Linked DNA regions of Homo sapiens. The protein of the gene in region 3 purifies or fractionates together with the protein of the main gene of each other region. This does not show direct contact. Each region holds a gene or a part of one and is shown on either strand. Other genes may lie near its edges.

Evidence for each region.
Region 1: the proteins of TMEM74 (region 3) and SLC35F5 purify together in Homo sapiens (affinity purification with mass spectrometry; one large-scale study listed by BioGRID and IntAct). This does not show direct contact.
Region 2: the proteins of TMEM74 (region 3) and MARK2 purify together in Homo sapiens (affinity purification with mass spectrometry; one large-scale study listed by BioGRID and IntAct). This does not show direct contact.
Region 4: the proteins of TMEM74 (region 3) and MLF1 purify together in Homo sapiens (affinity purification with mass spectrometry; one large-scale study listed by BioGRID and IntAct). This does not show direct contact.

The regions. Positions count from the first base shown.
Region 1 is NC_000002.12:113,753,843-113,758,100, forward strand, and holds the start of SLC35F5 (solute carrier family 35 member F5), read right to left. Parts: upstream 2,801-4,258; 5' UTR 2,568-2,800; coding exon 2,528-2,567; exon of another isoform or gene 2,035-2,527; coding exon of another isoform or gene 2,013-2,034; intron 1,703-2,012; coding exon 1,612-1,702; intron 1,465-1,611; coding exon 1,323-1,464; intron 1-1,322.
Region 2 is NC_000011.10:63,898,110-63,901,609, reverse strand, and holds part of MARK2 (serine/threonine-protein kinase MARK2), read right to left. Parts: intron 3,379-3,500; coding exon 3,330-3,378; intron 3,003-3,329; coding exon 2,937-3,002; intron 2,848-2,936; coding exon 2,777-2,847; intron 2,559-2,776; coding exon 2,502-2,558; intron 1,737-2,501; coding exon 1,500-1,736; intron 1,052-1,499; coding exon 932-1,051; intron 831-931; coding exon 731-830; intron 654-730; coding exon 541-653; intron 1-540. UniProt on the Homo sapiens protein: Serine/threonine-protein kinase. Involved in cell polarity and microtubule dynamics regulation. Phosphorylates CRTC2/TORC2, DCX, HDAC7, KIF13B, MAP2, MAP4 and RAB11FIP2. Phosphorylates the microtubule-associated protein MAPT/TAU.
Region 3 is NC_000008.11:108,778,474-108,781,534, forward strand, and holds the end of TMEM74 (transmembrane protein 74), read right to left. Parts: 3' UTR 501-3,061; downstream 1-500. UniProt on the Homo sapiens protein: Plays an essential role in autophagy. TMEM74-induced autophagy may involve PI3K signal transduction.
Region 4 is NC_000003.12:158,602,194-158,604,574, forward strand, and holds part of MLF1 (myeloid leukemia factor 1), read left to right. Parts: intron 1-613; coding exon 614-746; intron 747-2,381. UniProt on the Homo sapiens protein: Involved in lineage commitment of primary hemopoietic progenitors by restricting erythroid formation and enhancing myeloid formation.

The DNA of each region.
Region 1 (4,258 bases), on a different chromosome or scaffold from region 3:
ATTTAAAAGATAGGTTTAGTTCCCTGTCAATATCAAAGACATTTCTTTGAGGTAGAAGTACAAAATGTTCATCTAAAAGAAGGTTAGAGAAGAGTTTTAAAGCAAAAAATATATGGTCTATTAGATTCCAGAGATTAATTCTGAAAAGCATAAAAACTTATATACTTGGCCAGGTGAGGTGGCTCACGTCTGTAATCCCAGCACTTTGGGAGGCCGAGGCGGGCGGATCATGAGGTCAGGAGTTTGAGACCATTCTGACCAACATGGTGAAACCCCGTCTCTACTAAAAATACAAAAATTAGCCTGGCGTGGTGGGGTGTGCCTGTAATCCCAGCTATTCAGGGGGCCGGGGCAGGAGAATCCCTTGAACCCGGGAGGCGGAGGTTGCAGTGAGCCGAGATCGCACCATTGCACTCCAGCCTGGGCGACAGAGCAGAGCAAGACTCCATCTCAAAAAAAAAAGAAAAAAAAAAAAAAACTTATATACTCATAGGATACAATGCCAATGTCAATATTTACTTAGCTACAATATGAGACCTGAGTATTAAACTGCTTCTTTTGAAAATTAGGTTCATTTTATAAATGCCAGTTTCCTGCTGTATATTCGCCTTAAAATTGCAACGTAGAAGTTGAAATGCAGACTTCTGAAAATAAAAGTTGCTTTTTATAGGGATCATTAACCAAGCAGAATAAAGTATACAAGTAGAAAGAAAAACTAGCTTGCAAATTCAAAATGCCACATTACTACCAATAGGTCATCAATAAAGACACAATTTAACTGAAGGAAACTGTCAAGATACAATTTAACTGAAGGAAAATTATGAGGTATACCATGCATCTTATAATAAGGTTTGAGTCAGCAAGCATAAATGTGGATGCAACCACTCATGGGCATTGTAACAGTGACCTATACATGAAAACTCATTATTTTTACTCATTTGTCCAAAAGCACTCTGAACCTTCTACTAAATGGTGACATTGTTTTGCATCCTGACAGTTATTTCACTAGAAAATAATATTTACAGAAAGAATTTGAATTTAGAAAAAAAGCCACGAGTTACACTTTCAAATGTAAGAAAATATGCATAGTCTCTCTAAGTAACCCTCCCTAAAAGATACAAGAAAACTGTATGAAACAATAAAAAGGATCATCCTTTCAGTTTTAACTTCAAGTGGCAATAATTCAACGTTTTTTAAAAATTCAATAGTATTTAAGATACTGCTTTTAGAAAGCAGGAGATTGTAACGGCTAGAGTTACTACAGGTTAAGAGTTAACATTGTGGCTGTAATGTAACATCATTCCTGGACCAAAGGTACATACCGAAGTAAGTTCAGAGGAAGCAACCCATATCACATCAACAAGCAGAAGAATAACAATCCCAAGAGCCATTCGCCTGCGCTGAGTGAAACCACTGTTCTGGGAATTCATTCGGTTCATGACAAATACACACACCATTTGCAGTCTGTTTTTTAGAAAATACAGATCACATTAGAGATGATTTTAGAAAAACAACCATTAAAAATGAGAACATTAGTATAACAGAAACATTTGACTTTTGTTAGCTAATGTTCAGTGTGAAAGTTACATAGAGGATAAACGTGGAATCTACCTTGTCTTAAGAGCCCTTCTGAGATCCTCAAGAGCAATGCCGGAAAACTTGGCAGATCTCAGTCTAAAAGGAGGTGAAGAACTCAGCACCCCTAAAAACAACCATGAAATTATGCTATGAAAACGTGAATAACTCAAGGTAAGATTCATCACATCGTTTTTTACTCTTCATCTTCAAACTCAAAGCAAATCAATGAAAAGGACCAAAATGTGTTAAACATACTTGCCACCTTTCTCAGTACTTTCATGGTATCCACTGCACGCTTCAGATTATACTTAGAGAGATACGCGATACGGGGCGGGCAGGGAGGGGGAGTAATATACAACATACGGCACATTTAAGAACAGTTAACTACCAGAAAATAGCTTCTCTGAGTTTCACAAATACGGAACTCCATTCACCTCTCCATCCAGAGGAATCCATCCCTGGGGACAGCGTCTAGACACTGTTTCTAAAAGTGTCTTTTCTGTCCCTGATCTGCTGGAGTGGAATTTGGTTATCGGAGAGTAAGTGATTTGCTGTGGGTCTTGAAGGCACCTTTCCAATCTCTTCAAGTGGTAAAAGAAAAGGATTCTCCATGCTCCTCCACCCACCTCTATCAAAACATCCAGTCATTTTAAAAGAAACAGCTGGGAAAAGAAATCATCCTTCTGTTTTGGAGCGGGGAAGACAGTTAAGGCAGCGACGCCTCCCCGGGGAGCCGAGGCGAGGGCGCACGCACGGCTTCCTCAATTGCCAGCGGTGGGCGCAGGGCTCCGGCGCCCCTGTCAGCTCCCGCTCCCTCCGCCCCTAGAGACCTTCACGGTTTCGGTCAAGGCGCTCCTGCTGCCACCGAGGGCAGGAGGTGGTGCTGCTGGTGGGCACTCCGTCCCGGTTTGGGCTCCGGTGATGTCGGGGCCCTTCCCTGCCTGCCTACCTGGCCTTCCTGCCCCGCGATGGCGTCGTGGCGGCACCATGAGCGGACCGGTCAGGCCCCGCAGCCGCCCAGCGCCACGGCCGCGGCCTCGGACTCACAGAGCTGTCACCGCGCCTGACATCGCGCCGCACTGGAGGCCCAGCTCCTGAAGACGCGGTGCCCCTCAGGGAGAGGCTCCCGACACCACCCAACTCCACTCGGCCCAGGAGGGCGTGGAGCGGGTGAGGGGAAGGGACGGCACAGTCAGCTATGGCCGCGGAGGCCCGGAGATCTGCTCTGGCCCCGGCCCCGCCCCCGGCTTGCCCTCCGCGCGGCCCCGCCCCCAGTCCCCAGCCCGGAAGCGGTGGCGCGCGGGTGACGTCATAGGGGCGCGACGGCGGACTGCGCGCGGTCGCGTATGCAGCGAGGCTTGGCGGAGCTAGGGGAAGTAATGCGAGGCTCTGGTCGCCGAGCGAGGGCTCGCGGCGGCGAGGCGAAAGAAGAGAGAAGATAGGAAGAAGGGAAGTAGGGCGAGGTGGAGGAAGAAGAGGAAAGCGAGCGTGGGTGTCTGGGGCAGAGCAAAGGACGAGGGAGTGGCTAAACCTCCGCCCGCCTTAGAACGAAAGCTGGCCGTTCCGTTTCACAAACTGCGAACCTGAAACTTCGGATATCCCTTTCTCGATGACAGCCGAAACGCAAAGTGGCTTAGAGTACTTTTGATTCTTGAAACCTTTTGTATATAAACAAGATCTCAGCTCTAGGAGTTACAACCTACATCCTAGGCCAAGCTACTTCAACTTCTCTGGTCCTCGGTTTCCTTGTCTACGATAATGATAGTACCTGCCACATTGGTTTTTTGTGTGTATGCTAGGATTGCATGAGTTTACATATGTGAAGGACGTAGATCAATTCATGGCACATAATAAGAACCTCACAGACGTCAGCAATTTTTTGTTCGTTCGTTTGTTTTGAGACAGGGTCTTTCTCTGCCACCCAGGCTGCAGTGCAGTGGCACAATCACAGCTCACTGCAACCTCTGCTTCCCGGGCTCAAGCGATTCTCCAGCCTCAGCTTCCAGTGTAGCCGGGACTACAGGCGCAAGCCACCAATGCCCGGCTAATTTTTATATTTTTTAGTAGAGACAGGGTTTCGCCATGTTGGCCAGGCTGGTCTCGTACTCCTAGTCTTAAGTGATCCGCCCGCCTCGACCTCCCGAAGTGCTGGAATTACAGGCATGAGCCCTGCCAAATGTTGGCAGTTATTAAACTGTATAGATTTGTTCCTTAAATATTTTGACTATTCCATGAGAAAGGTTTGTCCAGCATCTTGATTTCTATCTACAAAACAAAAACAAGACTAAAGGGTTCAGTAATTTAACATCTTGGTCAGATGGCGTGAAGAAATTAAATTTTCTTACTCCTATAGTCGCGATGTAGTGTACCTCTTACCTTTTAAGTCTCGTTTCAGTGAAGTTGAATGCATATTCTAGCAACTAATAAAACAATACCAATGAACATTTTTTAATTGATCGAATCAGTTTCAAACTATCAGCATCAAACACCTCTAATAAGTCATTCAGAAACCTATTGTGCAGAGTAAAAAAAAAAACCAACCAGGCCGGTCGCGGTGGCTCATGCCTGTAATCCCAGCACTTTGGGAGGCCGAGGCAGGTGGATCACGAGGTCAGGAGATGGAGACCATCCTGGCTAACACGGTGAAACCCCGTCTCTATTAAAAAAATGCAAAAAATTA
Region 2 (3,500 bases), on a different chromosome or scaffold from region 3:
CTACTTGGGAGGCTGAGGCAGGAGAATCGCTTGAACCCGGGAGGCGGAGGTTGCAGTGAGCCAAGATCCTGCCATTGCACTCCAGCCTGGGCAACAAGAGCGAAATTCCGTCTCAAAAAAAAAAAAAAAAAAAAAAGCAACAGACTCAAACTTCCGATCAGACACACACAGAGACACACACACACACCCAGAAATGTACACTTCCAGATACAAAAAGAGACACAAAGATATCTAGATCAATGTAGTAGTGCTAGCCGATGACCTAGACACATCTAATCAATGCAGACTAACCTAGATCAACTCACCCGTATTGAAACTCTGACCCAGTCCCACACCGACCCTACCAGCTTTCTATTAATTCACTCATGGAGATCAGTGAATGGGCCAGAGGACCTTAGACACCAAAGCTGAGGCTTAAAATTGGTGAGCAGAGAGCACACCTACTCAGAGATGAGCTTCTGCCCTCAACAGGTGTTAGAAGCATAGGTGCTACAGACAGTGAGGCTGGCCAGGTCAGAGAATGGGGCGGGGAGCACACACCTCGGAGCTCTTGTAGCCCAGGAGCAGATAGGTGGCCATCACCTCGTTGTATCTCTGGCCCACCAGCGAGTCCTGGATCTCTTCCCGTGTATAACCCATGGACACCATCAGCTCTGCACAGGGGGACATACAGTTAAGACTGGCCTCAACTCCTAGGCAAGCTTAACCTCACAGCCCGGCACAGCCTCACCTGTCCGCCGGGGGTCCTTGTAGTCAGGGAGTGGCTCCACGTAAGGCTTTAGTTCATCATCTTCGTGACCCACATTCATCCATCGATCTTTCATGATTTGCTGGGGAGCACAGAGAAGGAAAAGGGCAGGGGGAAGAAACTCAGCTGGAAAGTTTCTGTGGGGACCCCAGGCCCTTCCGCCAGTTGGGCTCCACTGCTCACCTCTAAAGTGCCTCTCTTGCTGGGATTAAGAATGAGAAATTTCTTAAGCAGGTTTTCACAGTCCGTGGACATGTAGAATGGAATACGGTATTTTCCCCTCAGTACCCGTTCCCGCAGCTCCTGCAGGAGGATCCAGGGTTAGAAAATTGAAATCACCCCAAGGCCAAAGGAAGAAACCTAATATCCAAGATCCTGAGAGCTTAAGCCTGGCAAAGCAGACATAAATGAAATATGGAAGAAGGCAGACAGCCTGGGGACAAGACACCTCACCAGAGAGGCAAGTGAAGTCAAATACCCTCGTACCCTCTAACTTGACCAGTCCGAGGCCTGCAATCCGGAGTGCCTTGGGGGATGAACACACACACAGTTTATCCCATCTTTCGAGAAAGGAACTGAGGTTATTCATTCCCAGGTGCAGAAGGCCTTTGACTGCTGCTACCTCAGCAAGCCCTTCTCTGAAGCTTTGGCTTGGGACAAATGTAGACAGGTGGCAAAGGCAGGAGGTCAGGGCTAAGACCAGAGGCCGAGAGGAAATGAGAAGCAATAAAAAGCTTGCACTTCACTCCACCTTGAGGTTCTGTCCATCAAAAGGCAGGGATCCGCTGACCAGTGTATAGAGGATAACTCCTAGGCTCCACACATCCACCTCGGGTCCATCATATTTTTTGCCCTGGAAGAGTTCTGGGGCAGCATAAGGGGGACTGCCACAGAAGGTGTCCAGCTTGTTCCCAAAGGTGAATTCATTGCTGAAGCCAAAGTCTGCAATCTTGATGTTCATATCAGCATCCAAGAGCAGGTTTTCTGCCTGGGAGGTAAGATGGAAAACATCAGGGAACCAAGTGGACCAGACTAAGGCCCTGGGCAGGAAGGAGCTGAGGGGAATGGGAGAACAAACGGAAAGTCATCTTCAGTCTCAGAACTTTCTCCACCAATTTCAGGGCAGGGCTTCAATCAGCGTGAATAGGCTGGGCAGGAGGAAGGCAATGCAGGCCACTCCTCACGTGGGCAGCCATGGGAGAGATGGGATCTGAAGGCCCAGAGACCCTGTGAGCTGTGCAAAGCTTCAGCATCAGGCCCAGGTTAATCAAATCATGTCTGTGAGGACTCAGCAGCCAAGAGACCCACAGGTGTCCTCAAACTTGAGTATCTTGGTGATGGAGATGGTATGTGTGTGCCTGCCTGCAAAGCAGCTGGGATACAGCTGTGGAACTTTCAGCACTCTTCCCTGGGTCAGCTACCAGGTTGCCTGAAAGACTGAGAAAGCCTGGAGTGTGCCTGCCTTGCTTGGCAGCACTAAAAGGTGATGTGCCAAGAGGTGAAATGGCAGAGGGCCCCTGCTCAAGGGCTAGAATGGAACCCGAGGTCCAGCCACAAGGCCTCTATCAGAGGCAGCCCTAGGGGCTTTCTGGTCATCTCAAAAAAAAAAAAAGAAAGAAAGAAAGAAAAAAAGAAAGGCTGGAGTTTCCTGGAACACTCAGGGCCTGATGGTTATTGATGGTTTTATCATGGAGAACCAAGAGGCAACAACCTGGCTCCCACTCAAAGGCACAAGGAGAAGTGCATGCCTTACCTTTAAGTCTCTATGGACAATAAACTTCTGGTGACAGTACTGCACAGCAGACACTATCTGAAAGGAAGGAAGAAGGGTTAACCCAGGGGTGCCTGAGGGTGGGCCACAGGGGCTGACAGAGCAGTGACCCTGTGACTTAGTGCTAACCTGCCACACGGATAAGCAGAGCCCAAAGTACCCTCCAAGGGCCACTTACAGACAGGCAGCTTATCCTTACATGTCAAACCCCAAAAGCAGAGGTCAGGCCTAGCTCCTATGGAGGGAGTCACACCTACCTGGCGGAATTTGGCTCGAGCCTCTTTTTCTTTCATCCTGCCATGAGCCACTAGGTAATCAAATACCTCTCCTGTAAGAGACCAGGCAGGGATCTCAGTCAGAGCTGGCTGGAGGTGGAAGAAGTGGGGGCACAACAGGAAGAGGCAGTTCCACACCTACCGCCACTAGCGTACTCCATGACAAGGTAGAGCGTTTTCTCAGTCTCAATCACTTCAAATAATTTAACTACAAGAGAAAAGGCCAAGCCTTAAGTCAAGAAGCAACAGGGGCCACATACTGCTCTCCAACATGTCCAGGAGCATCCTAGGAACGAAAGTCTCCCCTCCTTTCATGATCCCCCACTCCCAAGAACAAGTTCCTCTCATGCCAGCCAAACTGCTAAAGACAGCCCAGTGTGCCAGAAGGGGAGATGGATTTTGAGCTGAGCTTCCCCAGGGGTATCCTTGAAGACTGCAGACTCCAGAAGGCAGTGCACCTCGGGGAGAAGATGACATGCTGGAAAGCAGTGCCTTGCTGTTGGGGAAGAAGAAAGAAATAACAACTTGTGCTCACCTATGTTGGGATGATTCAAAACCTTCATTATTCTTACTTCGCGGAATAGCTGGAAGATAAAATACCAGGGGTCATGCCTGCCCAACTTGCTCCCATCAGGTCTCTCCAAACAGTCCCTGCCAGGATTTGTTTTTCCCAAAAAACCAAAACCGGGCAGGGAAAAGAAAATAG
Region 3 (3,061 bases):
GTTAACAAAAGCCAAAAGAACTTCTAGAAAAAAACAGATATCGAAAGAAGTAGACTTTCTTCCTATAAAGGATGTAGATAAGAATCTTGATCCAATTTTTATTCAAAATAGATGGAGCAAGATATGGGGCCTCACTTCCAAATGTCTCTTTAGAGTTTTTGACCTTGACAGCACTTATATATAATAAGGATAAAATTCCAGTTAATAATATAAATTGTGATACATTCTTCAAATGAAAATGGAGATCAAAATTAGATTAAAAGCAGGTGCATAAGTTAATTTGATACTTGTTTCTCACCTAAAAGCTTTCTAGACACTCAGATAAGTGTTTTTAAAAAATATTTATTCATGTATTTTTCCATATCATAAAATGTGTACTCTAATACTGAGTAATTTAGAGAAACCCAAATAACTTGGACTATTTCCTATAAAACAACAAAAAATAAGGCACAGTCTACATTATATAGTGAAATGGTAGCAAGAAGAATGACAAACCTAAATTAGGGGTAAATATTCATTTTAATTTTTTTGGACAAATAATTTCAAATATAATTTTAAAAGACCAAATCAGCATTACAGATTCCAATTTAAATTAAGCTTAATAAACACAATAAAGCCTTTGAATAGTTTTATTTTAAAATGATATGACACACTTGCTATTAACATATAAGGCATCAAGTGCCCTAAGAAAGAGCTCATAACCTTAATAATTGCCCTTGAAAATATCAAAAAGCACATAATCAATGTCAAATTATTTTTGTTTGGCAAGAAAAGTAAAATTAACAGCACGATGAGAACCACAGGGTACAAACTCTCAATACACAATATGTAATAATTAATCTTTCTTTCTTATATGACATTTGTTTGGAGCCTGGCTAGGAAGCCTGAAGATGGCAGTGAAAAAATAGGGAGAGCTGTTCCTGAAACACAGGAGAGTTACCCAAATTTGAAACAAAGGAATATACTCCCCATAGTCCCCTGAAATAAAATAACAATTCACGGTAAAATAATTTCCAAATATCTCACACTCTCATGAGCCTGAAATTGAGAGGTTAAAAAACAAATTAATAAATATTTGTGGGAGGCTGAACAACCAAAACAGGTTTATAATAATTATGGCATCTCATTCTGAGGCTGATTCCAAATTCTTCATTCATGACTTGTGAAAGACTTCTCTTCTTCTTAATGTCAATAGTAAGGCATGCCAAATTCCTATAATAAAATTATTCTAACAATAACTTTGGATATTAAAGCTGTATAACTATAAAATATAGTCCAAATGCACATAGACTTGAGTGCACATAAATCTGCACACAAACATAAACCACGAGTACACTCTTGAGTGTAAGCCACAGATTCTTGAAATTAGTTTTATGTGTTTAAAATAACGTCTTGCTTTTTACAGTGTCAATTCACTAGGCAGGCAAATTATTTCCCAAGACTTATAAAATTTGTGAGATGATAATATAGAATATTATGAACCAAAAACAGATATAGCTAAAAATCAGCCAAAAGGAAATGATATGTTAATTCTCTTTCTTAAGTACTCTTTTTAGACTAGGAAAAGCCAGTAAGACTTCATTATAATCTTCTCATCGTAGTCATTCTTTATGTCCAATTCTGGGAAAGGTTAAACCCATTACAGAGAACAGTAAGTATTGATAGTATTACATCTTGCTGTAATAGGTGAACCACTGGCAAAGGTTGTGAATCTTTTTTGTCAGACCACGTTTTTTTGATGGCATTAATTGCTGCAATGAAATCTGACCTTCAGGTTGAAAAACCTTCTCCTAAGAGATATACATATAGAACACTTTTTTAACTTGACAATTAATCCAAGTAAAATTTTGCATACACCTATCATTGCACACGTGAAAGATGAAGACCAAAATGTTCACATGCTCCTGCCTAGAATTTTTGCTTGTCAGAAGGTGGTAAAAAAAAATAGAGCCATTGGGTTCAGGCTTTTAATTCTCAATATTTAACTAGCATGGTGCTCAGTCACTCATTTATCAAGATTAAGTCACCCCTTATACTGGGGGGACTGAGGTAAAGGCACACATAAGTTTGGCAGCGCAGTCTCTTTTCAGAAATTGTACCTTGAAGGGCATGTGCCAGCACTGGTCCAATTGGGTCCCTAAAACAAATAAGTATGAGGGGGATGAACTCATATTTTAAGCAGACAGCAAAGCATGTGATGATATCAAGGCAAGTAACTTGATAGAACAGAATCAAGGGTTATAGCAGTCATGTGGGTAAAAGCAACCATGGCCTCCAAGAACTTCATGGTTCCAAGCAGTCTTGTCTTCCTGTAAACTATAAATCACCTACACAGTGGGGAGCATGACGAAAAGCTGTTCTTTATATGAGGGGCCAGTACATCTTATTATGTGATCTGCTTTAAGAGCTCCCAATGGGTGGGAAGGACACACAGCGCTGCAAAGAAAACTCTTTGCAAACTCTACCACTAACAGTTTAAGGTGCCCTAAAAAGAACTGGCTTATAAAGATATTAGGAGCCTTAAATCATCCACCAGCAGCGTGTAGATCCCAGTAATAAAGGAGAAAGACAGCTTTCTTTCTGTAACTCACCCCATTGGGCCACACTGCTGAAAGACGAGCTGTCTTCTCATTGAGACTAGGAAGATGACTCTTGAGTTTAGATTTCTAAAACCATGTAAATAAGCTAAAGACCTAGAACCACTGAAATATGTTTTTCTTCTCTAGGACTAGCAATAAAAACTTTCACAGGTAACAACCAGCACCATATTGAAGAGACAGACGGAAGGTCACAAATCTCCATGAAGGATGCAAGACCAAAACTATAGGTATTGTATGCCCAATGTCTATAGAATGCATCACCTGGTCTTGCCAAAGTACCTCTAGAGCCAAAAACACTCTTTGTCAGATTGGGAAAAACAGGAAATAAAGCACATGGCTTTTCTTTGCCTGTGTTACCATCATTTTAAATTCAAGTAATCTTCATATTGAATTCAGGCAGGATGGATAAGGGCTACATAAACCAAATACCCAGGGAAAAGTCGATTAAGGCAAGTATCTGA
Region 4 (2,381 bases), on a different chromosome or scaffold from region 3:
ATTTTATCACATTTATATATATACTGAGTATTTCACAATAATCAACATTTTGATGAAAAATTGAGTGAAGGAACATAATATTTTAAAGCAGTCTTAAGAAGTACTATCATGTCTCTATTGTTGCTATTATGGAAGTTAGATTACTTCATAACAACATGAATTGACATTCTAGCTGAGTAACCTGTCTTAGGAAATTGACAACAGAAACTTGTGAGGTCAAGTTACACAGAAAGATGGTTAGGTGAATAGAAGTGCTAGCCACAGAAGTATACACTATACAGGAAGAGTATATTCACTGTGAGATGACCCAGGAAGAAAAACTGTTAGTTAATATAATTAGGTCAGCTGGTCCATTGGGTAGAATAATATGTTATCCAGGCAGTTGAAAAAATAGATCATCAATAACTAGATCATCAGTAGGAATAGGAGAGGAACAGACAGGAAAACAAATACTACTTTTGTCAAAGACCCTTATATTTGAAGCAGCTTCCTGCCTCTGTATTGAGGTTACACTAATGAAAACACCAGACTAGACTGAAATATGTGGGAGCAAGGCAGTTACTGACAGTTGATACCTTAATACTTATTCCCATTATTTTTCTGTTTGACATAGGTGATGCTCATGCTTTTGATGAGGAGTGGCAAAGTGAGGTTTTGAAGTACAAACCAGGACGACACAATCTAGGAAACACTAGAATGAGAAGTGTTGGCCATGAGAATCCTGGCTCCCGAGAACTTAAAAGAAGGTAAAAGTTGTTTCTAAAATAGTTTGGTTTTTTAAGAAGAATTTGAAGTAAAGTTATGTAATTTACTTCTGTTATCAGAAAGTTTTGATGATCATCCAAATTGTATCCACAGTATCTTTTGTGAAAGATGTAATAATTTTATATGAAAGCTGATTATTCCACACAAATTTAAATTTATATCTAAAAATCAATAATAGTTTAGGATTTTATGGTTAGTAATTCACTAGTAAACTATGCCTCAGAAGACAGAGACCAAAATCCTCTTAAGGAAAACTGATATCCTGTAGTGTAGTTATTCTTGTAAAACACATTGTAATATGGATATAGATAGAGTCATACATTTCACACTGGTAAAGATATCTAGAGATATGATAAGGGGAGAGGGGCTCTATTTGGAAGACTTAACAACTTTCTTAACAAATCAAAATTTAGCATTTAATAGTAAATTTCAGACACTTGTATAATATGTAACAGTACATGCAATACCATATTCGATGTGTATTAGATATTTTGGAAGAATTTTGCAAGAACATTAGCTTCTTTTAGAATTCCCTTTTAGAATAGCTGAGAAAAATAAATTTGCTGAAACCACATATTAAAGATTATAGAGATTTCTGTCTGGACATGGTGGCTCATACCTGTAATCCCAGCACTTCCGGAGGCCGAGGCAGGTGGATCAGTTGCGGTCAGGAGTTCGATACCAGCCTGGCCAACATGGTGAAACCCCGTCTCTACTAAAAATACAAAAATTAGCTAGGTGTGGTAGCACACACCCTGTAATCCCAGCTACTTGGGAGGCTAAGGCAGGAGAATTGCTTGAACCTGGGAGGCAGAGGTTGTGGTGAGCCAAAATCACACCACTGCACTACAGCCTGAGTGACAGAGCAAGACTCCATCTCAAAAATAAATAAATAAATATTATAGAGTTTTTAAATACATTTTGTACATACTCTGGAGCTACAGTTTAATGTGGTTCTCAGAGGAATAAATGGATAATAATATCTAATTCCTATGAAGTTACACTCAAAGGCCTCACCAGACCTTAAATAGAAATCTGTTCTAAGCTATAAGAAAGTGGAAAATTGCTACAGAAGGTGGAAGCCTTCACAGAACTAGCAGTGGACAAGTGAGTATCAAGTAAATCAGAAGCCTTATGCAGAATTTCATATGCTAGGATCTTTTCTTCTAAAATACTTGTTTAGGAATTTAGAGCCCTAGTATTTTCTATTGAATTGCTTGAAAACTTGCTCCCATATTCATTATAGATATTTGTCTCATTTGAAAAATGTATTGATTAAAAACCTGGCAGTGCCAAGTTTGAATAGGAAATCCAGGTCGCACTTAGAGAAGGCATGCTCTTTATGGATGACCTATAAATTTCTGGCCCTAACAGTGGCATTTTCTCTTAACCGGCACTGTCCAATGGCATTTTCTGAAATGACTTCGGTAATGACAAAAATGCTATATATCTATTCTGTCCAGTGTAGTAATCACTAGCCACATGTGGCTGTTGATTCACATTTGAAGCATTGCTGGTACAACTGAAGAACTGAATTATTTTATTTTAATTCAAATATAAATGTGGTTAGTGACTACCATACTGTTAACATTAAACAGTGTTTAAACTATAAACAG